Linked DNA regions of Homo sapiens: region 1 is linked to region 2. The links come from fine-mapping of genetic effects on plasma protein levels. A gene starts in region 2. The other region holds a variant in brackets. All regions are shown on one strand. Distances are from middle to middle.

Region 1 (8,000 bases), 100 kb before region 2:
GGATCTTCAAGTGACCAGTCCTGATTCTAGGGCCTTCTCTTGTATGTTGAGTCAAACCATAACACTCCCATGGCCTCTTCTATAATCTACCAACTTACCCTTGTCCACCACAGTGGTAACTGTTCATCTGCACTTGGTCTTAACTGGTACTAAAAAGGTTTCTGGCCATGCTTAACTCAGGAAACCTGAGACCCATAAAGTTAAAATGATTTAATCAGTAAGAAGTCAGGAACAGAACTAACTACTCCCCTAAACCATGAGACCATGCTCCCTTGTTTCTAAAAAAAAAAAAAATTTTTTTTTGAGACAGAGTTTCACTCTTGTCGCCTGGGCTGGAGTGCAATGGCACGGCCTCGTCTCACTGCAACCTCTGCCTCCTGGGTTCAAGTGATTCTCCTGCTTCAGCCTCCCAAGTAGCTGGGATTACAGGCATGTGCCAACATGCTCAGCTAATTTTGCATTTTTAGTAGAGACGGGGTTTCACCACATTTGCCAGGCTGGTCTCAAACTCCTGACCTTAGGTGATCCACCTGCCTCGGCCTCCCAAAGTGCTGGGATTACAGGTGTGAGCCACTGCACCTGGCTGTTTCTCAAATTTTAATGTGTACAAGAATCATCCTGGGATTTCATTAAAATGCAGATTCTGATTAAGTAGTTCTGGGACCTGGCTTGGGGTTCTGCATTTCTAACGAGCTCCCAGGAGATGCCAGTGTCTCCAGACTTCATTTTAAGTAGCTAGAAACTAGACCATGCTGTCCAAGATGGCAGCCATTGGCTAAGTGTGGCTATCTAAAGTTAAATTAATTTGAGTTAAATACAAGTCAATGTGGTTGGTACACTGCAAACCTCCCTAGGTGATTCTGATGTGCATTCAGCTTTGAGAACCACTGGGTCATAGCAGGGTGTCACTTGCACCAGCCACATTTCAGGGGCTCCGGAGCCACGTTTGGTTAGTGGCTGCTATAGTGGACAGCACAGATATAGAACATTTACATCTCTCTAGAAAGTTCTTCTGGACAGTGCTGGAGTATCCCATTCAATACTGTCCTTCCATAAAGTTATGGTCCTTAGACATTTCAGGGCTCTATCAAATTTCACATTTCAAGTAAATATGAACAATGTTCAGCACTGACGCCTGGCATGGAAAGAGACTGCATTTTTTAAATTAATACCTAATGCTAAATGACGAGTTAATGGGTGCAGCACACCAGCATGGCACATGTATACATATGTAACTAACCTGCACATTGTGCACATGTACCCTAAAACTTAGAGTATAATAATAATAAAATTAAAAAAATAAATTATTTGGAAGGTGAAGGAAGATGTCTTTGGGACTCAAATCTCAGCATGAGAGGCTCAGGAACCTTGATATTAAAAAAAATCCAATTTCTCCGTTTTCCTCCAAAAATGGTAAGTTGTGCTCTCAGGCAAGGCAAAACAAAACAAAGCAAACAGAAACAAACAAAAAATCTGAGACCAAACAAACAAGCAACCAAAACTCCAAAACAAAACCCAAAACTCAAGAAGCAAACCCAACACACAAATCTAATTACAAAAAATTAAAAAGAAATGAGAAAATTAAAAAAAGAGAGAAAAAGAAGAAAAGAAATTGTGCATTCTAGCAGCAGGGTTTCTAAGCTGGATGTTCTTTAAAGTTTTCGCTCCAGCATCAGGAAAGTTCTAAATATATGTAAGTGTATTTTCTGCCCTAAAATAGTCTCACATTGAGTCATGCAATATATCAGGGGGTGGCTGTGTTGTTAGTGTGGGAGGAATGGTTGATGGTTGTGGGTAAAAATAACAGCACGTGCATTTGTATGAGGTTGGAGGTTTTTTCAAATGCTTTCCTTTTTGTTATTACCCTTTGACCCTGCCAATAGGCCACAGAAGTGGGTAGGGCAGAGCTAATTTCTCCCCATTCGGCAGATGAGAAAGACCAAGGCCCACAGGGGTTAAGCGACTTGCTCAAGGTCACTTAGTGAGTTAGTGACACAGCTCAGGTTAGAACTCGGATCTCCTTGAGACCTAGATGTGTGGCCTGGGATGCTCAGGCATTGGGTGTGCATGCATACACTCGCACACACCTGCGTGTACACACATGCACACTCTACCTGTGCTGGCTGTCACGGGCTGCAGCCAGACCGTGGACTTCTGTGTCACCATTGGGGAGGGGAGGCCCTTTACGGGGAAAGAAACGCAAGGGTTCCGGGTACCTAGAGGGGAGAATCGATGGTGCCCTATCTCTCCCTGAAGGAGGGGTGAGAGGGAACCTGCTGGGAGGCCATCTAGGATGGGGTGGGAAGGAGAGAGGTAAGGAGAGTGAGGACTAAGATGCTGGAGTTGGGCGTAGAACGAGGGCTGACCACAAAGGACTCAGCAACGGTCAGTCTCCTGGGTATCAAACTTATGTGAATACGGCAGCATGTTCTCTGCACAAAGAAAATCAGAAGGGATTTTCTGTTTTTTTTTTTTGAGACGGAGTCTCACTCTGTCACCCAACCTGGAGTGCAGTAGCGCAATCTCGGCTCACCGCAACATCTGCCTCCCAGGCTCAAGTGATTCTCCTGCCTCAGCCTCCTGAGTAGCTGGGATTACAGGTGCACTCCACCATGGCCAGCTAATTTTTATGTTTTTAGTAGAGACGGGTTTCACCATGTTGGCCAGGCTGGTCTCGAACTCCTGACCTTAGGTGATCCTCTCGCCTCAGCCTCCCAAAATGCTGGGATTACAGGCATGAGCCACTGTGTCTGGCCTCAGAAGGGATTTTCTGCTTAACACAGCCAAAAAACACCAGCCAGCTAGAGCATTTGATGTTCACCTTAAGACACAGGGATCTGCTTGCTCCATGCTGGAGCAAATACTGAGTTGGCCTCATGGAAAGGCAGCTCAGCGTGCACACACCATGTGTCCTATACCTTATGGGGGATGCAAGGGCTTTTCAAGGGTCATTAACAAAAATTTTTTTGTCATGGTGCGGTGGCTCAGGCCTGTAATCCCAGCACTTTGGGAGGCTGAGGCAGGCAGATCACCTGAGGTCAGGAGTTCGAGACCAGCCTGGCAAACATGGTGAAAGCCTGTCTCTACTAAAAATACAAAAATTAGCCAGGCATGGTGGTGTGTGCCTGTAATCCCACCTACTCGGGAGGCTGAGGCTGCAGAGTCGCTTGAACCCAGGAGGCGGAGGTTGCAGTGAGCTGAGATCGTGCCATTGCACTCCAGCCTTGGTGATAACAGCGAAACTTCATCTCAAAAAAAATTTTTTTATTTTTATTTTTTAGAGACAGGGTCTTGCTCTGTTGTCTAGGCTGGGGTGCCGTGGTATAATTATGGCTCACTGTAGCCTCAAGCCCCTGAGCTCAAGTGATCCTCCTGCCTCAGCCTCTGGAGTAGCTGGGACTTCAGGTGCACACTACCATGCCCAGCTAATTTTTAATTTTTTTGTAGAGATGGGATCTTGCTATATTGCCCAGGCTGGTTTGAACTCCTGGCCTCAAGCAATCCTCCTGCCTCAGCCTCCCAAAGCACTAGGATTATAGGCATGAGCCACCGTGCCCAGCCATCAATGGTAAGTTTGATTAGATGCTTTTTTACTTTACCAAATACCTTTAGAACTCAATCCCACATTAGATGCGGTTCCATTACAAACATATTTTTGACTACAGGTATGTTTTGTCTTACAAGGTATCTTATCTTTTGAACTCAACTTCTAGATTAGCTGCAACTTCACTGTGAGCATCAGACAGGAAGCTTTTAAGGAAAGAAGTTCCATTCTTTGATTTTAGCTTTTTTTTTTTTTTTTTTTTTTTTTGACAGGTCTGGCTGTTCAGGCTGGCCTCAAATTCCTGGGGCCAAGTGATCCTTCTGGCTCAGCCTCCAGAGTAGCTGAGACTATAGGTGTGCACTACCATGCCTGACTGCCTTGCACTGATTTTGAATGTAGGTTCTCAAAGAGGGAAAAAGAATA[A/G]TATTTACACAGTGCTTTTTTTTTTTTTTTTTTGAGATGGAGTTTTGCTCTTGTTGCCCAGGCTGGAGTGCAATGGTGCGATCTTGGCTCACTGCAACCTCCTCCTCCCAGGTTCAAGCGATTCTCCCGCCTCAGCCTCCCGAGTAGCTGGGATTACATACATGCGCCACCACGCCCGCCTAATTTTTGTATTATTAGTAGAGATGGGGTTTCACCATGTTGGCCAGGCTGGTCTCGAACTCCTGACCTTGTGATCCATCTGCCTCGGCCTCCCAAAGTGCCGGGATTACAGGCGTGAGCCACCACGCCCAGCACACAGTGCTTTTACATCTAGTTTGTGATTTGATTCTTACTAATTAGAAAGTCAAGGTAGGTGCTATAATCTCTATTTGATAGAAAAGGAAACTGAGGCACAAGGCTGTGAAGTGACCCAGATACCAAAATATTTGCCCCAGTAGACTGCAGACACCTCACAACTAAGACCCATTACAAATGGACTTCAGATTACAGCCACCATCCAGAACTCAAATGTGAACCCCAGGTGCCAAAAGTCAATGTCCAGTTACCCTCGGGGGTGGCGGGTGACGTCGGAGGGGTCATTCACTTACTTCCTTTCTTCCTGCACAGAGTTGGGGTGCCTCATTTCCATCAAAGCACAGCCGAATTTCTGGAAGCCAAAACATATGGGTGAAATTAGCACATCTTAGTAAATGGGAAATCAGGTCGGATACTGAGGGTCTGGGGTCCTGGCTGTCAAAGAGGAGACTGATGCCCGGAGGCCAGGATGTCAGGAGCGGTCAGGGGCTCAGGCTGGACAGTAATGCCTGGGCTACAGACGCAGTGGATACACCTGCTGTTTAAATGACTACAGGTGTGGACTCCCTACCCCCAGCACACAACTTCCCGTTGGAGCCTTCCTTCTATAAAAATATTGTCCCCATGTTCCTCATCTACATCAGGGAACATCAAGCTAATGATAGGAGCAGCCACTGCAAACAAATAGCTCACTTAGGTGACAATATTTTCACCAGGGACTTGCTAACTAATGGACGCCAGTAGACTGAGTACTTGGAATTGTCCAACCTTTGTATAACTTGGATCCAAATGGAAATTACTGGCTTTCAGGCTCTGGGAGGGTTTGCTACTGAATAGCAGGTGTAGGAAGAGTCTCAACCTTGGCCCCTACTTCTTCCTGATGATGGAACCACACTCTTGAACAGGTAAAAGCTCATCTCACCTCCCCATTCTCAGGGGGATCTCCATTGCCAAAGGTGCTGGTGACCACAAGGACCAGAGTTTCATGTTCCAGGTGCACAATGTCATATTCTTCCATGGACATCACCTAGGTGGGCAGGGCACAGGTATAGGATGGGGAGAGGAAGAAGGGGATGAGGAGAGAAAAGAGGTGGGAGAGACAAAAAGTGATGGGGGAAGGGCAAGAGGAGAGAAAGGAAAAATGTGAGTCATTTTGGGTCATCTCCTTTGGAAGGAGAACCAAAAGATCTGAGGTGTTAGTACTTCAGTGGGCTCAAGTGGGTAGAACTAAACGCTTTTTGGTAGCGTGGGACCTTGCTATGGTCACTGTGGCCTGAAGGGTTGTGGAGAATCTGAAGCAATGGTTCAAGGGATTGGCAGATACTAGAAACACAGCTTGATGGAATCCCATGGGATTCTTATAGTCAATTGGTCTTGGATTCTTCCTGACCCCAGTTAGGCCGGGAATGATCTGGCTAGAGCTGACTAAGTCTTCTCAACCTCCTCTCTAATCCTCCCCCGAGCAGTGTGGAGCACCTGGCCAAACAAGTCTGAGATATCTGCCTTCTGGAAAGATGATTGCCCTGTGTCTCATCATCGTCTGAGCAACATTTCTCAAAATAGGTTCTAGAAAATCCCAGTCTCCTGAGATGCTCCATGAAAACAAGCGATCCACGATCAAACATGTTTGGGAAACGTCTATATTCTATCCTCGCCTCTTTTGGAGATTAGAACACATGCTTATAGATTACAGGCTCTGGGAAGTCCTGCCACAGCAATGAAAACCATCGAGCTGGCCGGGTGCGGTGGCTCACGCCTGTAATCCCAGCACTTTGGGAGGCCGAGGCGGGCGAATCAAGAGGTCAGGAGATCGAGACCATCCTGGCTAACACAGTGAAGCCCCGTCTCTACTAAAAACACAAAAAATTAGCCGAACGTGGTGGTGGGCGCCTGCAGTCCCAGCTACTCGGGAGGCTGAGGCAGAAGAATGGCGTGAACCCGGGAGGTGGAGCTTGCAGTGAGCCGAGATCGCGCCACTGCACTCCAGCCTGGGTGACAGAGTGAAACTCCTTCTCAAAAAAAAAAAAAAACAAAAAACAAAAAAACAAAAAAACAAAACCAAAAAACCATCGAGCTGTACTTCAGGCAAAGCTTCCCAAACTGACCTCAGAATGGTTTCTTATAAACCCTCTAACATTTTGCTCTAAAGAGGGGAATTTCATTTTGTGACTCCTGGACTCATGGGGACAGGGATATCACAGTCCCCTGAAATTTATGCAAATGTGTATGTGAGCTGATAGGCCCTGTCAGGTGTGCTTTCATCCTTTGCCAAAGGCTTCTTCTCTGTTGACTTCCCTCTCTCCCCTTCCTGCCTTAATTCACCATGAGAAGCTGGTGGAGCTAGGGCTACCCCCCACCTACCTTGGCATCAAAGGCGTGTTTGAAGATCTCACACAAGGTCTTGGCATAAGCTTGCGATTTGCCTGTCTCTGTGGCATAGAGGATGGTCGCTTTCACCCTCTTGGCCATAGCCTGCCCCATCAGCTTGGCCGAGAACTTGACAGCTCTGGAGGGAAGAGGATGGAGATGAAAAATGGGCAACAGAAAAGGGGAGAGAAGATGCTGGATTGGGACTTTCGTGCAAGAACCAGGATCCATGAAATATAACAGAAGAGAACTCTCTTGATCTTTGATGGCTTCAGGGGTTTCCTCAGAGGCACTTGAAGTCTTTGTGTTTAAGCACCGTATTATTAAAGTATTATTAAATCCTTTATTTTATTTTATTTTTTAACTTCTCTAGAGATAATGCTGGATATTAAATCCTTTATTAAATCCCACCAGAGGCCGGGTGTGGTAGCTCATGCTTATAATCCCAGCACTTTGGGAGGCCGAGGCAGGTGGATTGCCTGAGCTCAGGAATTTGCCACCAGCCTGGGCAACAAGGTGAAACTCCGTCTCTACTAAAATACAAAAAAATTAGCCGGGAGTGGCAGCGTGCGCCTGTAGTCCCAGCTACTTGGGAGGCTAAGGCAAGAGAATTGCTTGAACCCAGGAGGTGGAGGTTGCAGTGAGCCGAGATCGCACCACTGGGCACCACTGCACTCCAGCCTGGGCGACAGAGTGAGACTCTGCCTCAAAAAAAAAAAAAAAAAAAAAAAAAAATCCCACCAGAGCAATTAGTCATGAATTAAAAGGAGTAGTTAGTTTTGTTAGCTTGTTACTTGATTGATCCCAGGCTTAAGAACCTTGGTTTGCCAAGCATTGCCTCAAAAGATGATCGTTCATCCATTTCCTCTCTCTTTCATTCATCAAATATTTATTAAGTGCTTAACTATGTGTCAGTATTGTTATAGGAAATGGAGACCACAGAGAACATAGCTATGGAATGCAGCTGTCATAGGGCTCATATTCTAATGTGTGTGTGTATGCACATGTGTGAATGAGAGAAAGAGAGAGAGAAATGAATCACGAATTAGTCACCAGGCATTGAGTTTGATGGGATTTAGAGGTTTATTGGTCCACAAGGGAAGGACCAGGTCTGATTTATTCAGCAATGCATGTCAAGGGTCTTGCACAGAGCCTGATACCCAACAGGCACTAAATAAATATCTATCAAAAGAAGTTATGGGATGGGCATAGTGGCTCATGCCTGTGATCCTGGCACTTTGGGAGGCTGAGGCGGGAGGATCACTTGAGGCCAAGGGTTTGAAACCAGCTTGGTCAACAGAGTGAGACTTTGTCTCTACAAAAAAGAAATAAAAGAAGTTATGAATTTTAA
Region 2 (16,578 bases):
AAGATATCACTAGTAGGGAGATTCAGAAAGAGATATCATGCTTTCTGAAGGCAAGTCTTGAAGAAGGGACCCTCAAGAAATCCTACACCTTGCCGGCAGCTGGAAGCGAAAATATTTATCTACGTATATGAGTTTGGCATGTTTGTTACAAAAATCATCAAAATCAATAAAAATATCAAGCCAAGAAACCCACCCAGTCCCATTATTTTATACCATGCTTTGGGAGAAAGAAAGAGATTCCATTTCAGTGACTACCATGATATTAGAAGCAAAATGATAACTGAAGGTATTGCCAGCTAAGACTTATAACAAACAAGCACATCGATGCTATTGACTGTGTTCATTACCTGTTTTCTGGCACATGAACATAACTGGCTTTCATTTTTCTTACTGAGTATTCCAGAGCTGAGATACTGCTTCAAAAAAATTAAAGAGAAAAATATGCCCAAAATATGTCAGTTGCTATCGAGTACTATTCTGATTTATCCCCGGAGGTTACTTTTTTTTTATGCTGAAAATTCCTGGAAATGACATAGAGCCCAATGTGATCCATGTGGCTGTTTTAGTGACTAAATAGGATGGACTGCCCACATCATTTACCTCACTACATCTAGTTATTGGTGAGTGGATGCCTGTTTTGGACACCATGAGCTACCTTGAGGGTAGGGACTCTGTCTTCCCTTTCTTTATGAGGAAGCCTCTCTTGTGGGGACTGGCACAGAGCTGGGAGCTCAGGTTGTGTTTGTTAAATGAAGAAGTGGTTAACTTCACTCTCGTTTATGACAAGAAATGCTTTAGCTGGGAAACGACGGTTGTACACGGATACTATCTGAAGTTGCGTAAGCTTTTTGAATTCACAATATTCCTTCTTCATTTCCAACTGGAAATGGGTTTCAGAAAGGCTCACCTTTTTAATCCTCATGGTAGCAAAATTTAGCTGTCAGGTTTTGAATAAAGAAGAGATTCTCGAGTATTATTTAATGCCAGTGGGCAAATGTTCCCAGCAGAAGCTGAAATGCTTTTCAGGGCACCTCTGAAAATCTGTAGGCTCCCAAAGCATCTTGGATGGTCAAAAAGAAAAGGCTCATCATTCCCAGGAAATCCCAGTCTTAGTAGGTAACAGGACATACAAATAAGAGGTGGGAAATGCCCAGGCTGGAAATGGGAACTTTGCCCCTTGCAAAGGACTTCTGTATTTTCCACCTGAATAGGGCCACCTTTCTCTTAGGAAATGTCAGCAGAAATCATAAATGCAATTGATGGATGATAATTGGGCCAATGTTGCTCTCAGGTAAGGCAGAAGATGTTAAAGCTGAAAAGGTCTTTGTGGGAAGTGCGTCCTGGGGTTGTAAACTAAAATGCCTCGAAGGGCCCGGACAAGCAAATTAAACAATATTGAATGGTGAGGCTGGTGACCTAAAGGAAAAAAAATACTCTCCAAACAAAACCCAACAAAACAATGCCCCCAATCCAAACAAACAGAGAACAAAAAAAAGCCCTCTGCCAGACTAACAGAACATATCTGCAGGTCTCTGAAGGGAGATGCCCTTTAGTTCCAACTCCATTTCACAGATAAGAAAACAGAGGCTGAGCAAGAGAAAGGGGCTCAGACTACACCAACTGGCTAACTCTTTTTTATTTAAAAAAATTAATTAATGAATTAATTTATGTATTTTCGAGACAGGTTCTGGCTCTGTTACCCAGGATGGAGTGCAGCGGCACAATCTCGGCTCACTGCAACCTCCGCATCCTGGGCTCAAGCTATCCTCCCACCTCAGCCTGCTGAGCAGCTGGGACCACAGGTGCACGCCACCACACCTGGCTAATTTTTTTGTAGAGATGGAGTCTCACTCTGTTTCCCAGGCTGGGCTCAAACGCTGAGCTCAAACAATCCTCCTGCCTCAGTCTCCCAAAGTGTTGGGATTACAGGCGTGAGCCACTGTGTCTGGCTGGCTCTTTTTAAAATTTCTTTTCTTTGTTATGATCACTGAGATGGGCTGGATGCTGTTTCCTTTCCAGAGTTAAACACACACACTATCCCATTAAATCCTCCTAACAACTCCCTGTAGTACTTATAATCTCTGCTGTATGAATGACATGCTGGAGAGTCAGAGATGTTAATTCTCTCACTCTGAGTCACAGAATCCACAAGTGCCCAAGCTGGCCTCTGACGTTTCCTAAGATGATTCTCAGTGTGAGGCCCTCCCTTTCAACCTGGCTGCTGCTGGCCCAGTTTGGCACTGGGGACCCCAACCCTGAGAGGGTGCCACAAATCAGGCTATGGGCTTTGATGCTACCTCCTCTGAGAAGTCCTCCCTGATTCCTTCAACCACCTGTCCTGGGTCCTACCACAGCACCTCACCTCCACCTCTCTTGCAGAAACTTCACGCCAGGTACAGGGTTTGTCTGGTGCTCACCGCTTAGCCAGACTACAGGTTTCATTAGAATGGGGCTCACACCACCTTTATCTGGGCACCTGCCCTTGGGGTCTAGCACTGGCCTTGCCATTTAACACGTGTCATGACACATACAATAAATGTGCTGACGTCTGCTGCCGAACAGCCCACGATAACTGCTGTTCATCCTTAGCATCATACGACTGTGCCAAGACCCATGTCCACTATACCCTGTTAACCATACTTGAATTAGAGACTTAGGGGCACTTTCTGTTGACACGTCATTTTCATTTAAAAGATTCGAATGGGCTCAATTTTCCAGCATTGCCAGGTGCTGCTCATCATTCTTCCACCTTAAGAATGGGCATGTGAGCAACATAAACACACTTGCAAAGGCTGAGTGGAAGGCCGATGGGCTGTGGAAATGAACTCAAACCAATGGCTTTGGTGAAATCAGTGGTAGTTAAACTGGGTTTATTAGCTCTGTGATTACTTCTTTGCAGAAGTTATACCTGATAGGTCACTTATAAAAGGAATTTTTCTAGGCCTGGCGTGGTGGCTCACACCTGCAATCCCAGGACTTAAGGAGGCCAAGGCAGGCAGATGGCTTGAGCCCAGGAGTTTGAGTCTGGCCTGGGCAGCATGACAAAACCCCGTCTCTACAAAAAATACAAAAATTAGCCTGGTGTGGTGGCACAGGCCTGTAGTCCCAGCTACTCGGGAGGCTGAGGAGAGATGATCATTTGAGCCCAGGAGGTCGAAGCCCCTTCCCTCTGAAAGGGAGAGATCAAATAGTGGGGCTAATGTCCAAGATTAGATGGGAACTCAGGGCTGACACCCAGCAAGGTCAAGGTGGGAGGAATTATTTTCAGTCTCCTCTGAGCAGTTGGTCTAATTTAGAATAACAACCAGAAAGATGAAATTAAATTTCTTTAAAGTCCGGCATTTACGGGGCTTGTACTGAAGGAAACATGAAGTTATCATCGATGAGGATTGGACAATAAGTCAAGACACTGAGGTTCTATCCCAGCTTTGGCAGTAATGTGCTGTGTGACTTTCATCGAGTCACATGCCTCTTCTGGGCCTCAGTTTCCCAATTTGTACAACGAGGGTGACAGACAAGAACTGAGAGTATTAGAATCTCCTGGAGCAACCTTGTTAAAAATAGAGATATTTCCAGTCTCCCCCAGGAATGCTGATTCGGTAGATTTAGGGTGGGGTCTGGCATCTTTGCTTTTAACCAGGGACTTGCTGTATTCTGACACTAAAGGTCCACTGGGCTGATGTTTGGCGTTCGCTGGATTAGATGATGTTTAAATGTTATCATATATTAGAACGAGGAAAATGGTCATGTCTGTAACCTATGTGGTGTTAACTACACAAACCCACACTGATCCATGGCAGGAAACATGCCCCTCTGTTCAAACAATCCAGATTAAAATGGGTCCTGAAATGCCAAATTCAACTTCCACAAATTCCAGTTTCTAATGGGAAAAAGCCCCAGTTCTCACGAGCACGGATTGTTGCCTGTGGCTCTTAACCACATTCCAAGCCCCGCACAGACCCACAGAACCTGAGTGACAGGCAACACATGAAGTCTTGTCATAAGACACCCCAAAACATCTGCAGATTGTGAGCGCAACAGGCACAGCCAAACCTGTCTGTGCTCACAATATGCAGGCGAATTGACCTCCAAATCTTCCTGCCTCCTGGGAAATCAGCGGCCCCCCAGTGGGGAAGTTTCTGGACAACTGACTGAATGGTACCTCGGACAACTCTTTGCATCTTACTCACAGAGACCCACTGGGAGCAGCCTAACCCATCACAATACCCCCGCCCTCTCACTCTTCTCCGTGCGGTCCTTCCCCAAGGAAGATGGAGGCTCCTGGGGACTGGCTTTGGCCATTTGGGAAATATAAAGAGGAGACAGAAAGGGCAAAAAGCGGGCTGCTCTGAAAGCCACGATGACACTATTGGCCCCAAATGGCTCCATGGGACACTCTTCCCTCTGTTTCGGGTTCCCTTCCTTCCTTACAATCACCAGTCTTGGCATACCAGCATTGTTTCCAGAACCCCTTTCACATACATCATCACAGAGTCTTCAAAACAGCCCCGTGTGGGAGTTACTGTTCTCATTTTACAGATAACAGAACTGAAGCTCAGAAAGGTTAAGTGATCAACCTGAGGTCACACAGCCATGGAGTGAGCTAAGCTTGGCCTCAAGCTGAGGTCTTCACCAGGTCTCTCTACCACACTGCTCACTCTTTCTCTACATGATTTGGGACTTTGGGGAAAAAAATCACACAATTTGTGGAGACAAAGCCATGCCCCTGACCATAGCGTTGGCCTCTGGCTGAACAGATGTATCAGGAAATACAGCTGTGTGTGCTAAGGTTCAGGCACATGCCAGACTGCGTAGATGCCCAGATGCATGCAAAATGCCCCAATTAAGAAGCCGAAAATTGGGGTTGAGGTCTCGGGTAGTGCCACTTACCAGCTAGGTGACTATGGCTAGGTAGTTTGGTTTGCCCCACCTCAATTTCCGCAGCTGCAAAATGGAATTCAGATGGCTGCACTGGCAACCTGAAAGTTAAGAGGCTCCAGGTGAATAATACGTGTGACAGTGCCTTGGAGCTGTCAGTGGCAGAGCCGTGCGCCCCTCAGGGCGCTTCTGAAATCCAGACTAGTGGAAAGGGGCCGGGGCCCGCCGTGGCGGTGCTGGTGGGGCGGACACCCCCTCCTTCAGGGACCTGCCGAGGCTTCTCAAACCATCCGCTGAGATGCCTTGAGGGCGGAGAATGGACGCGACCCCTGCGCACTTGGGGAGCTGCCACAAGAGCCCTTTTCCTATTTTATCTTCAGTTCTGAAAAAATAACGGGGGAAAAAATCTATGCTCCAGAGAGCTGCGTCAGTGTTCCCTGGTGTTTACGAATTTCTTGCGTTTGCCCCGACCCCAATTAGAGAAGCACTAAAGAAAGGCAGCAATTTTCCCTCATTCCTCTCGGGAGGAGAGGTCTGGGGTCTCCTTTCTGCTGTCTCCCAATGTCGTGGGCCGCCAGAGGTGAGATGAGGCGCCTATGGGCGCGCTCGCCTGCACCGCACCCTTGCCTAGCGGCGTCCCTGGGGACCCTCCCTCCGTGGTGGCTGCGTGCGCGCTTTTCTTAGGCCTGAGCGCAGGGTTTGAGCTGGGCTATGGGAGTAGAGGGAAGAATCCCATGCGTCTTTCCCAGGATTACTGGGGTAGAGATGGAGGCGAGAGCAATCTTCCGCAGCCTGTAGTACCCTGTGGGGTAGACCCCCCGGTTCCTACTGGTGGGGAAACCCTAGACCTGCGTGCGAGTCTCCCAGATCCGGTCCCAGAGCATTACAATAATGGTTTTATATATATATATATATATATATATATATATATATATATATATATATATATATATATATCAGCAACACTTCCTGCGTTATGAACGCTTACCCTGACTTCATATTCACATTTATGATTTTTTAAGGTCCTCATGACAGCCCCACGAAAAAGGTAGTTTCTCCATTTTACAGATGAGAAACTGAGGCTGGGAAAGATGAAGAGACTTACCGAAGGTCACGCAACAAGTAAAGGGTCGATCTAGGACCAGAACCCAGGGGAGTCACTGGAAAGGTTCCTGCCCTCCTCGGCTGCCTTCTCCGTGAGAGCCTCTCCTCTCTAGATGTCTACCCCAGACAGCCTGATGCGGAGCTTGGAGAGCCATGAGCTCTCTGGTCACAGTGCCCTGGGGGTGGGGGCGAGCGTCTGGCGTCCTCTGGGGCGCAGTCCCGAGAGAGCCCCTTCCGGGACCTCGGACGCAAGGCCCCTGAGTGGCCCTGGAAGTTGGATCCCCCGGGGACCCTGCTCCGAACCCTGGCCACCTGGAAGCAACCTCATCGAGCGCTCCTTCCACTGCCCAGCCCCGAACCGTGGCGGAACGCGCCCCTCGGCCTCCCTAGAGCCTCCTTTGCGGGAGAAGCACAACTTTCCCAGGTTTTGGAGACGGCGCTCTTACACCCCAATCTCGCCCAGACGGAAGAAGTGAGAGGTGCGGGCGGCCCCGCCATGACCGCGGGAGGAGAGCGCAAGGAGGCTCCTCGCAAAGTTGGAGGCCAGGCCGGAGCGATGTTCCGGGAGCGGAGCCCTCCCAGCCTCGGGCCCCCAGCCGCGGACAGCTGGCAGTGCCAAAGACTCCGCCATTACCTGCGGCTCGCAGTTGCGATTCGGCCGCAGAGTCGGGCACCGAGGAAGGCGTAAAGTTGAGCTTGGGCAGGTACAACGGTCCCCAGGGACTGGCATCCCCCAGCCCGGGCTGCCCGCGGGAGGGTAGCGAGCTGTGCCAAGGGCTCCGCCATTACCGCCAGCGCACAGCTCGGAGCCAAGCGCGCGGCTGAGGAACGACTAGGGTCTTGCAAAGTTGGAGCCTGGGCGCGTAGACCCCCGGACCGGAGCCCCCGGCCTGAGGCCGCCCGCTAGGAGGAAAATGAGGCCGCCCGAACCAAGTTGGGACGCGCAGCAAAGCCCGAGCCTTCCGCGCACACCAGGGGCTCGGGCGGGAGCGGGGAGCCCTGGGGACGGAGAAGGGGCGCGGGACGCCTGGATCAGGAACTCACCTGACGCCGAGCCGGGCAGCGCCGAGGCTGCCTCTTCGCGCTGCGCACCCGCCCGCCCGCCTCGTACTCCTCCTCTTCCTCCCGGGCGCCCGCGGCCGCCGCGCTCCGGGTTCTGAATCCTCCGAGTCCGCCGCCCCGCGCGGCTGGAGGGCGCCGGTTGCACCCACTCGCCTCCTGGTAGGAGCCGCGCGCGTCCCTCCCCTTCCCCTCCGCTTTGTGCCTCCAAGATCCCTCCCCACCCCCTCTCCCCTAGCCCCCACTCCTCCCTTCTCTTCTTCCCTCCCCTTGCGTCCCCTCCCTCAGCCTCAGCGAACCCAAGTTCGGGACGGAGGCTGCGGGCTTCCCCGGCGCAGTGCTGGGCGCCCCGCGCGCGCCCCTGGCTCACCCCGTCCGCTCGGCCGCTGCTCGCTGCCCGGCCGCCCCTCGGAGGAGCCGCGGCGCTAAGTAGCTCCTCACCCAGCGGCTGGAAACGCGGCATAAATATGTAGGGACTGAGCCGTGAGCTCAGCGAGGGTCGTGAGGGGGAATTTATTTCTTAATGTCCCTCCTTTATCCTATCATCACTGAAACGAATTAGCAGTGACGTCCAACCCGACTGGTTTATGGGTGTGGGGAGGGAGACGTCGCAACCCTCATTAAAAGAGCCGCTCTGGGCTCCAAAGCATACATCTTTTATATAACCTAATTTCCATTTTTTTTTTTCTATCAGGAAACACACACACACACACACACACACACATACACACACACACACACACACACACACACACACAATGACAATTTCTGGGAGCCTGGATAGGGCTGAATGTAGTAGCCACGCAGGGCAGGGCAGGTCTATTTGGGCAGAGAAGGCCCCATGGGAGGCAGGGATGGTTATTTCTGCCTCTACATCAGTGTTGGGATAGCATTCCTTAATGGGACAGTGGAACACACAGCCTCCCAGGCTGGGCAGTGCTGGGAGCCCCTCCCAGGAGCCCGCAGAGGTTGCAGCCTGGGTTCTGGCCTTGGCTCTCGGGTGGACAGACGGAGAAAAGCAGCCTGTTCAGGAAATGTTGCCTGGTTCTGGTCTTTTCTGGAGCCACACTCAGGCCTGGCATCTGGGGAGAGTGAAGGATGGAGGGCACATGTTCATCTGTGGCCTGGGAGCCCCACAGGTGTGGAGAGGCCAAGGTCTGGGCTGGAGGAGGGAAGACACAGAGAACGCAGCTTCCCTTCCTTTCTTAGGGGCCCTAACATATGGGTAACCATATAAACCCGACTCAAAATCTGTCTTTTCCTGGGCAGATTGCAAAGGATTTTGCATCTCCCCGTTGCTGTTGCTGCTGCTCACACAGTCTTGGGAAAACGGGGGAAAATCAAGGAAAGAGAGGACACACACACGCGCACGCGCACACGCGCACATACACACACACAAACACACACACACACACACTTGGCACCTGGCTCTGGGTGATTTGATCTTTTCCTCCTCCCCAGCCTTGCCAAGCGGAGCAAACCCACTCAGGCTTCGAGTTGCGCAGAGAAGAGGCAAAGAGGAAAACCACCACCCCCTTTGTCACTAATAAATGCTTTTCAGATCGTCTTGCACATCCAGCAGGGGAGGGGGTGTGTGACTTTGGGGGCAGGAAGAAGGGTGTGGGGGATGAGGAGGGGAGGAAGGAATAAAGAATAAGCTGACGAGGGTGCCTGGAGGTCTATGCTGTCTTCCACATGCTGGAAGGAGGCCTGGAGAAATGCCACCAGCCCCAGGGCTCTGCCACTTCCTGGCTGCCACAAGGGCAAGTTTCAGAGCCTGTTTCCTGAGCCATGGATGGGCCTGGGGATGTCGTGAGGATATACACAATGAGATGATGCTGGTGAAGCCCTTGACATGGTGCTAGACATATAGTAAATGCTCAGGAAACAGTTGCCAACAATAATGGTGATTTTGATGATGATGAGAATAATCCAGCATACAGGCTGGATGGGGGGTGGGTCCCAGAAAATTGAGGCTGGAGCTGAGTCCTTGCAGTCTGGTCCCCTCCTGTTTTGGGTCCAGCGTCCCTTGCCCGAACCATTTCAAAGTTGAGCGCTGGGTTTCAGTGGTGTCATTCTCAGAACACTGCTCCCTCAATTACCATGGCAACTGGGGAAAATCAGGAAGCTAGGGGAAGGGAAGCTGCTCTTCCACTGGGCTGGCGGTTCACCTGCTCAAAACAGAGTCCACGTCTGCCTATGTGTGGGTCAAGGCCAAAAGAAGCTCAGAGTAGGGGCACTTCCTCTCTGGGAGCACAAGCTTTTTTGAAATTGGGGAGAAGGGTGGTTGGGAGGGGATGCACGGCCACGAGATGGTGGAGATAGTGGGGTCGGGCCAAGGCTGGCTGTGCCTGCAGAAGGCAGAGTTGGCTTGGGTTTGGGGAGAGGGGGACAGAAACCCCACTCCCCTCAGTTCTCTCCTCACTTCCAGGTGCCCTGGTGCGATTAAAAGCAAAGCCTTAGAATGTAGCTCTTGAGACAGAGATCTGGGAAGACAGAGCCTCAGAGCCCACGGGTGGAGCCAGGGACCATGAGGTGCCCTCTGTGTGTGTGTGTAGATGAGAGACGAAGACAGACAGACAGACACACACACACACACACAAACAGAGAGAGTCAGAGAAGAGAGAGAGGCAGAGAGATTTATAGACAAAGAGAGAGACAGAGACAGCAGAGACTGGCAGAGACAGTGAGAGACAGAGATAGAAAAACACACAGAAAGACTGGCAGAGAGAGAGAGATTGGCAGAGACGGAGATAGAAAAAACACACAGAAAAAGAGAGAGACGGAGAGATTGACAGGAAGACAGAGACTTATTGGCAGAGACAGAGAGAAAGACAGAGAAAACAGAGGGAGACAGATTGGCAGAAAGAGAGTAAGAGAAGAGAGAGGCAGAGGGATTTGCAGAGAGAGAGAGACAGATTGGCAGAGACAGAAAGAAAAAATACACAGAGAGACATATTGGCAGAGAGAAAAAGAGAGACAGAGTAAGAGAAGAGAGAGAGGCAGAGAGAGATTGGTAGATTGGCAGAGAGATTGGCAGAGAGAGAGAGAGATTGGCAGAGAGAGAATGGCAGAGACAGGAAAGAGAGACAGAGATACAGAGAAAGACGGACAGTGACAGACAGAGCCAGATACTTCCCTTCCCTCCCTCTGGTGGTTTCCCCAGGATTAACGGGAACTATGGACAACACTAGTTGCGGTAGTAAAGAGAACAATGGCCATCTTCTGTTGAGCACTTCCCATTTTGCTGGTTTTGAGCCACGCATTTAATAGGTATAACTCACTGAACCATCATAAAAATGGTAAGAAATGACTCCCTTTCTTATTCCCATTTTACAGAGGGAGAAAATAGAGGCTCTGGAGGCAAAGTGACTTGCTCCAGGTCACCCAGGTAATCTGTGGTAAAGCAGATATTAGAACTCGGGACCCCAAAGTGGAGCTTTTCCTGCCTCCTCGCCGCTGTCTTGTGGAGAAAGAGGGAGAGGGAGGATGTCAGAGCCATCTGGGGAGTGTCTAGGGTTTGGGGAGAGTGGCTCCTGGTGTTTGGGGACCCCTACCACATGAGTACGGACAGTGTCTCCAGAGATCCCCAGCAAGTGGAGGGAAGAGACTTTTACCATCAACCAGGTGGCCTTGGGACAGTCCCCAAAATGCCCCTTGGGTGTAGTGCCTTGGAAGCTGCTCTGGGCTGTCACAATAACCTGATTCCACCAGGACCTCTCTGGGGTTCAGGGGGAGATGAGGGTTGTGCCACCCTTCTCTCGAGCTATTGGAAGATCAAACCAGCTGAGACCCATCCAGGCATCAGCGTAGGGCAGGCACTTCATAAATGGTCACCGTGATAACAATTATTCTTGGTCCTTCTCTCAGGACCACACCCCTCAACCCCTGCATGGATGGTGGATGGGTGTAAAGGGTGTCCCTTCCCCCCCAGCCTCCCAGCCACTCTGGACCCTCACTGGTGCCCACCCCTCAGTGCAGAGGTGGACCCCAGGGGAGTGGAGTGCTCTGGCGGAGCCCTGGGCAGGAGGAGGAAGGGAGGAGGCTGGCCTCACTGACGTGGCTGTCACTGAGGGGGTAATACATTATCCAGGGCTAATGAAAACATAATTATCTTCTTTTGGCTGCAGAGAGGGGCTAATTTAATAGGCTGTGATCGAAAGGCATCTGCTGAATTCACCCAGCAGTGAAAACACTTGAAGCGCTTCAGGGGGCGGAAATGGACAGAGTGTGGCTGGCCGGGTCCGGCAGCTGTGTCCAGGTGGCAGCTCCCCTGGGAAGAAGGGGGTTCCTGGGGGTGCAGCAGAGGGGATGTGGCTGCTGGTAGGTGTCCTGTGCACAAACAGACCTGGGCTTCTTTCTTGCCATGAGTTCTGGGGCCAGTTATTTCTCTCTCTCAGCCTCACCTTCCTCATCTGTAAAATGGGCGTTAATCCTACCTTCCTGACATTGACTGGGAGGAGCAGATGAACGATATGAGAGAGAGCCTGGCACATTCTAAGTAAGTGTTTCACAAAATTTTCATCCCTCTTCCTGGGCTGGCTCTACTCGGCCTTCAAGTCTTAGCGCGAACTCCCCCACTTGGGAGCAGCCCCAAGCACTCTGCATGTCCCTCTTCAGAACATACAAGTTCTGTGATATTTACTTGTTCAATGCCCTCATGAGGGCAGGGTGGTCTGTCTCATCCGTCACTCCAAGGCAGTGGTTCTCAAAGCGTGTTCCCTGAATGATGAGGTCAGCATCACCTGAGAACTTGCTAGTGATGCTGATTCCAAGTCCCCACCTCAGACCACCTGAATTAGACCCTCAGGGTGGGGCCCTGCAATCTGCATTTTAAACAAGCCAGCCAGGTAATTCTGATGCATGCTCAAGTTTGAGAACCTCTGTTCCCACCAAAAACCGAACAAATGTTTGTTTAAATAAGTAGAAGAAGAGTTTACTATTAAGCTGGGGTTCAGCTATGTGATGACAATGTCTCCCTTATTAGACACCAACTATATACCTAGTCCTCTGCATTATGCCCTTGAACCTACCAAGCCATCCCTTTATCCATCACTTACCATTTCCCACACTACTTCATCCCCAAGAAATGCCCCTTGGTCTGCCTCATTGTCCTGCCTTGCTGGCCCGTTGGAGGTGTTGGAAGACCCATGGGGTGCCTCCTCTGTGTCCTTCCTGTTCCCATGGTGCGTAGGTCCCCTCTCTCCCTTAAGCAGCCCCGTCCACCCAGGGCTTCTGATTCTGGAAAGGAATTATGCTTTTGACCCTGTCTCTGGGTATTTGGCTGGGAAAGTGATTTGGACCTGCTTGTTGTGAAGGATGGCACCCATTGGTCAGTTCTGCAGTTAGAGTAAGGAAGGGCCCTTGGAGATGGCTGCCTCCAACCTAGCGTTTTACACTGGGGAGGCCAAGATCCAGGAAGGTTTGACAATTCATCCAGGGGCAGCAGCCTATCAGTGACAGATCAGTTTCCTGTCCTAACTCCCAGTTCAGGATGCAGGGTCTGAGCCTCCTAAGAGCAAAGTGGGTGTCACTAAAGTGGCCGGGGGCATGCTTCTGTAGGACCCAGGAAAAATGAACAGCGAACAGGGTTGTCTGAGAGCCCAGAACCCCCAGGAGAGGTAGGAGCATTATAGTTTCTGGGCATGTCAAAGACTCCTCCAGATATTTACAGGACTCTGGCAGAGAATAAAGAGGGAAGAACACTTTAAGGCTTAAAGAGGCAGCCTGAGCATTAAAAACACTAGATTTGTGGCTGGAACACCTGCTTTCCAGACCTGGCACTTCCACTAATGTGCAATGTGAGCTCAAGGAAACTCCTTGGCATCTCTGGGTCTCAGAAGATCTTAACCTGAAGATGGCCAAGTCCCTGGAATTATATGCAAAATCAATTGCAAGTGCGTTTTGCTGGGGTAGAAGGTTCATAAGTGTGCAGCGGCTTTTTAAAGGGTGTGAGACCTTGGAAAGGTTAAAAACAATTTCTTGCCTGAGAGCCGGCTGGCAAATTTGCAGATGCCTGAAGCTCTATGCAGACCGTTTGTCAGAGATGCAGTTTCCTAAATGACCAACAGATGGCGCGCTAAACCTTCGCTGTAGCCTTCCTGTTTTCCCGGAGACCAGCCAGGTAGGTCCATGGCTTCCTATATTCAGCTTTCAGGACCAGAACCTAGGTCCCCGCTAAGCTGGGCTGACCTGGGTGGGTTGAGAATGCTGGATCACCCCAGAAACTGTCTGCATCTCCTAGTTCCCAGCATCTGTCCACATAGAGAAGGCATTAAAAAGAATGTGAGGGCATAGGCAGGAAACGGGGTGGGGGTTGCAAGCACACCAGAGGACCAAGTAAAACATTGAGAGGAGTCCTAAGTTTGTTCTTCATACCCTCAATTGAGTCCTTCGGTTATTCCCTTCACCCTCATTACAGAATTCCCTGGTCATCTCGCCCCAATTAAAGGCAACACATTGCAAAAATTCTCTAAGCCTGGAGTTCTGATGGTCTAAATTGCACTGGGGTATGAAGGGCTGGTCAAAGTATTTGCATTTTGAAGGCACTGTTAGAGAGAAGCCAGTGCTAACCGGTGTTGCAAATGTACATACTTCCAGGGAACATGAAGTGGGCTGGGTGGGAGACATCAGGGAGTAGTGGAGCCTGTGGCTAACTGGAGCACATGCCCCTCCTAAAGACATTCACATTCAGATGTTTCCAAAATAGCGTTCCATCCAACTAAATCACTTGGGCCACTAGTATAGGAGCTCTGACCAAGGAAATGGGTTTCAGCCTGGTTAGTGGAGCTGTCTGAGTGGCAAAGAAGGTCTTAATCAGAATGTAAAATAGTGACTCCCAAACTCTCAGATGTATAAGAATTCCCTGAGAAGGGGAACACCAGCTCCTTGACCCTGCCCTCAAAGACTGGGAGTCTATAGCTCTTGGGTGGTACCCAAGAGGCTGTATTTTTAATAAGCTCTCCAGGGGAAACTGAGGCAGGTTGTCTTCTGGTTCTAAGTTGGCTACCCTGAGCTGGTAAGGCCACCCCAGTGTGCTGGACTGGGTCCTTACCCTTGCTCAGCAGATAACTGGAGTTCAATGACAGAGCTTCTCAGCACCAGTGACATCCCCTCAAGATGAAAGCAGAGATCTCTTACAATTCTGCCCTCCCCACCATATCACAGACATGTGCAAAAAAGATGACATGGGTTGACTTATTTCTAAGAATTAGGCAAATTCTGAGACCAGTCCCTAGGGGAGGATAATGGGGAGGTGGTTGAAAGAGGAAGAGGTAAGTGTTCTGGAAAGCTCCCAAACCAGGGCCAGGGTATCTGACTTCTTTATTTGACTCTAGCCTCCATCTGCTGTGTGACCTTGGGCAAGTCCCCTCCTCCCTCTGGGCCTTAACTTCACCATGTATAAAATTAAGAAGTGGTAGACTGGAGCATAGCTTCTTCCTCTGTTCTAGGACCACCTTGGGCTCTCCAGCAGTGTCTTGGGGTCTGCCTGTCATGCAGGTCAAGGGGGAAGGTTGGGGAGCTGAGCTCTGAGCTCACTCAGAGCTGTTCTGTTTTTAATCTGTCTGTGTATCTGGCTTCTTCATTCAGCTTTCATTGAGAGCTATTGGCCTGGCATCTTCTAGCATACATATAATCATTCTCTTTCCCCTCTTTCTGGTGGTCCACATGCCTGGCACTATGCCAGGGGGCTGGGGCAACCAAGACCCCCAGGCAGGCTTCTGGCTCATGAAGCACTCAGTGCCAATGGGGAAGTCAGATGAGCTCACAGTCCATAGGCCGTAACAACCAAGCCTGCTAGTGTGCTGACGCTTTGCAGCCTACACTGCCCAGAACCATGGAAAGGGATCCTGCTGGCCTCACCCTGAGTTTTAAAGCCTTAATGAGAGAACCCATTTTCTTCTCCACAGCCTGACAGCCTAGAGCTCTGTTAGCTTCATATGCTTTGACATTTGATTTATTCAAACAGACATGCGAGCAAACTGTCTTAGACTCTTCTCTAATTGTGTGGAAGAGGGGAGGGTGCAATGATCGGGCGTGATATGAAAGCTTTGGAGTCAGTCCTGGGCTTTGCTACTTCCTAGCTGTGCAATCTTAGGCAAGTTAATTACCCTTTCTGAGCCTCAGCTTTCTCATCTGGCAAAACTGGGGAAAATGATAATCCCTACTTCATAGGATTGTGCTGATTAAATGAGATAGTGGATTTGAAGCCCTTAGCACAGTATTTGGCACGTAGTACCTGCACAACAAATGGTAGCTCCTTCTCCTCCTGTTATTACTAGTGTGAGGGTCCGGCCTCTGTTTTGAGATTAGGAGCCTTTTGAGGGGTAGGAGCCATGTCCGAATCTATTCTGACGTTCTCTAGTATGCCTAGCAGTTTGCCAGTACATCCCAGGCATTCAGTTACTGAATTCAATTGCATGGAGGAATTGGACAATTTCTCTAGACCAGTGGCTCTCAAAGTGTTTTCCCCAGACCAGCATCACCTGGGAACTTGCTAGAAATGCAAATTTTATGAACCCACTCTAGACCTAGTGAATCAGCAGCCCTGGGCATGGGGCCTGGCAATCTGCATTTCGAGAAGACTCCAGTGATTCTGGTGCATTTTCAAATTTGGGAATCAGTTATCTATATCAATAATTTTCAAACTTGTTTTAGCTGGGGCATTAAAAAAATTCTAATGGGATTGTATGCAGAAGCCAGTATATAAAATAGGTGAAAGGGGAGCTATTGAGGAATCATGAAGCAGGGGGCAAGATTCTTGACTGCCCTGTCCTCCTTCGGGGAGCCCCTGGAGCACTTAGGACTTCCAGGAACACAGCTTAAAAAGGACTTCCTCACAATTTTTCATCCTCCTACTCATCTACCCACTTATCCATTCAGCCACCCACTGACCCATCCATCCATCCATCCATCCATCCATCCATCCATCCATCCATTCTTCCATCCATCCATCCATCCATCCATCCATCCATCCATCCACCCACCCATCCATCCATTTATCCAGCCAGACAACGAGCCACCAACCCATCTGTCTGTCCAACAATCCATCCGTCTATCCATCCACCAACCCAGAAGTTCATCCACCAATCCATCCATCCATACATCCATCTATCCATCCATCCCTCCATCCCTCCATCCATCCATCTGTCCATCCGTCCGTCCATCCGTCCGTCCGTCCGTCCGTCCGTCCGTCCGTCCGTCCGTCCGTCCGTCCGTCCATCCATCCATCCATCCATCCATCCCTCCATCCATCCATATCTGTTGGGAGATTATGTATCTCTTGCATTTCTCTATGTCTTGCCAGCAGAGGCACTGATTGCCTTTTTATCAGACTATCCTTTTAAGATGCTTATATAGAGAACAGCTTTGGAAGACAGAAATAATGTTTCAATTCAGAGCAAAGGGCAGGCATGTGTACTCTCCAGGATGATAAATATACTATCTCGGGAAAAAAGGGCAGGTTTGTCCAGTATACAGGATGGGGTTTCCTCTCTTGTAATCCAATCCATGTCACCTGATCCTCTTTGTGTTGGG

Which allele goes with the higher level. Alleles are on the strand shown, and positions count from the first base shown. The strength of an association depends on the size of the effect and on how common the allele is.
In carriers of allele G in region 1, the plasma level of the protein whose gene starts at base 7,526 in region 2 tends to be lower than with A alone (moderate association).

What was found. A credible set is the group of variants that fine-mapping cannot tell apart. PIP is the chance, under the fine-mapping model, that this variant and not a neighbour inherited with it causes the effect. Protein levels are from antibody-based Olink assays in UK Biobank. Linkage for the fine-mapping came from a reference panel and not from the study's own genotypes, which makes the PIPs less certain.
Region 1: its variant is the best candidate, but not a certain one, in a credible set for the plasma level of the NOS1 protein (UK Biobank, PIP 0.67).

Annotation. Positions count from the first base shown.
Region 1 is chr12:117,253,822-117,261,821 of GRCh38, forward strand. It overlaps NOS1 (nitric oxide synthase 1), which reads right to left. Exons shown (of 29, transcript NM_000620.5): 14 at 6,644-6,788; 15 at 5,205-5,309; 16 at 4,576-4,634. Among named protein-coding and RNA genes, the nearest start is that of FBXO21, 67 kb to the left of the region's middle. The variant A/G (reference allele first, on the strand shown) is at 3,968.
Region 2 is chr12:117,354,101-117,370,678 of GRCh38, forward strand. It overlaps NOS1 (nitric oxide synthase 1), which reads right to left and starts at 7,526. Exons shown (of 29, transcript NM_000620.5): 1 at 7,412-7,526. RefSeq lists promoters at 7,027-9,304, 7,027-7,187, 7,412-7,484, 7,651-8,572.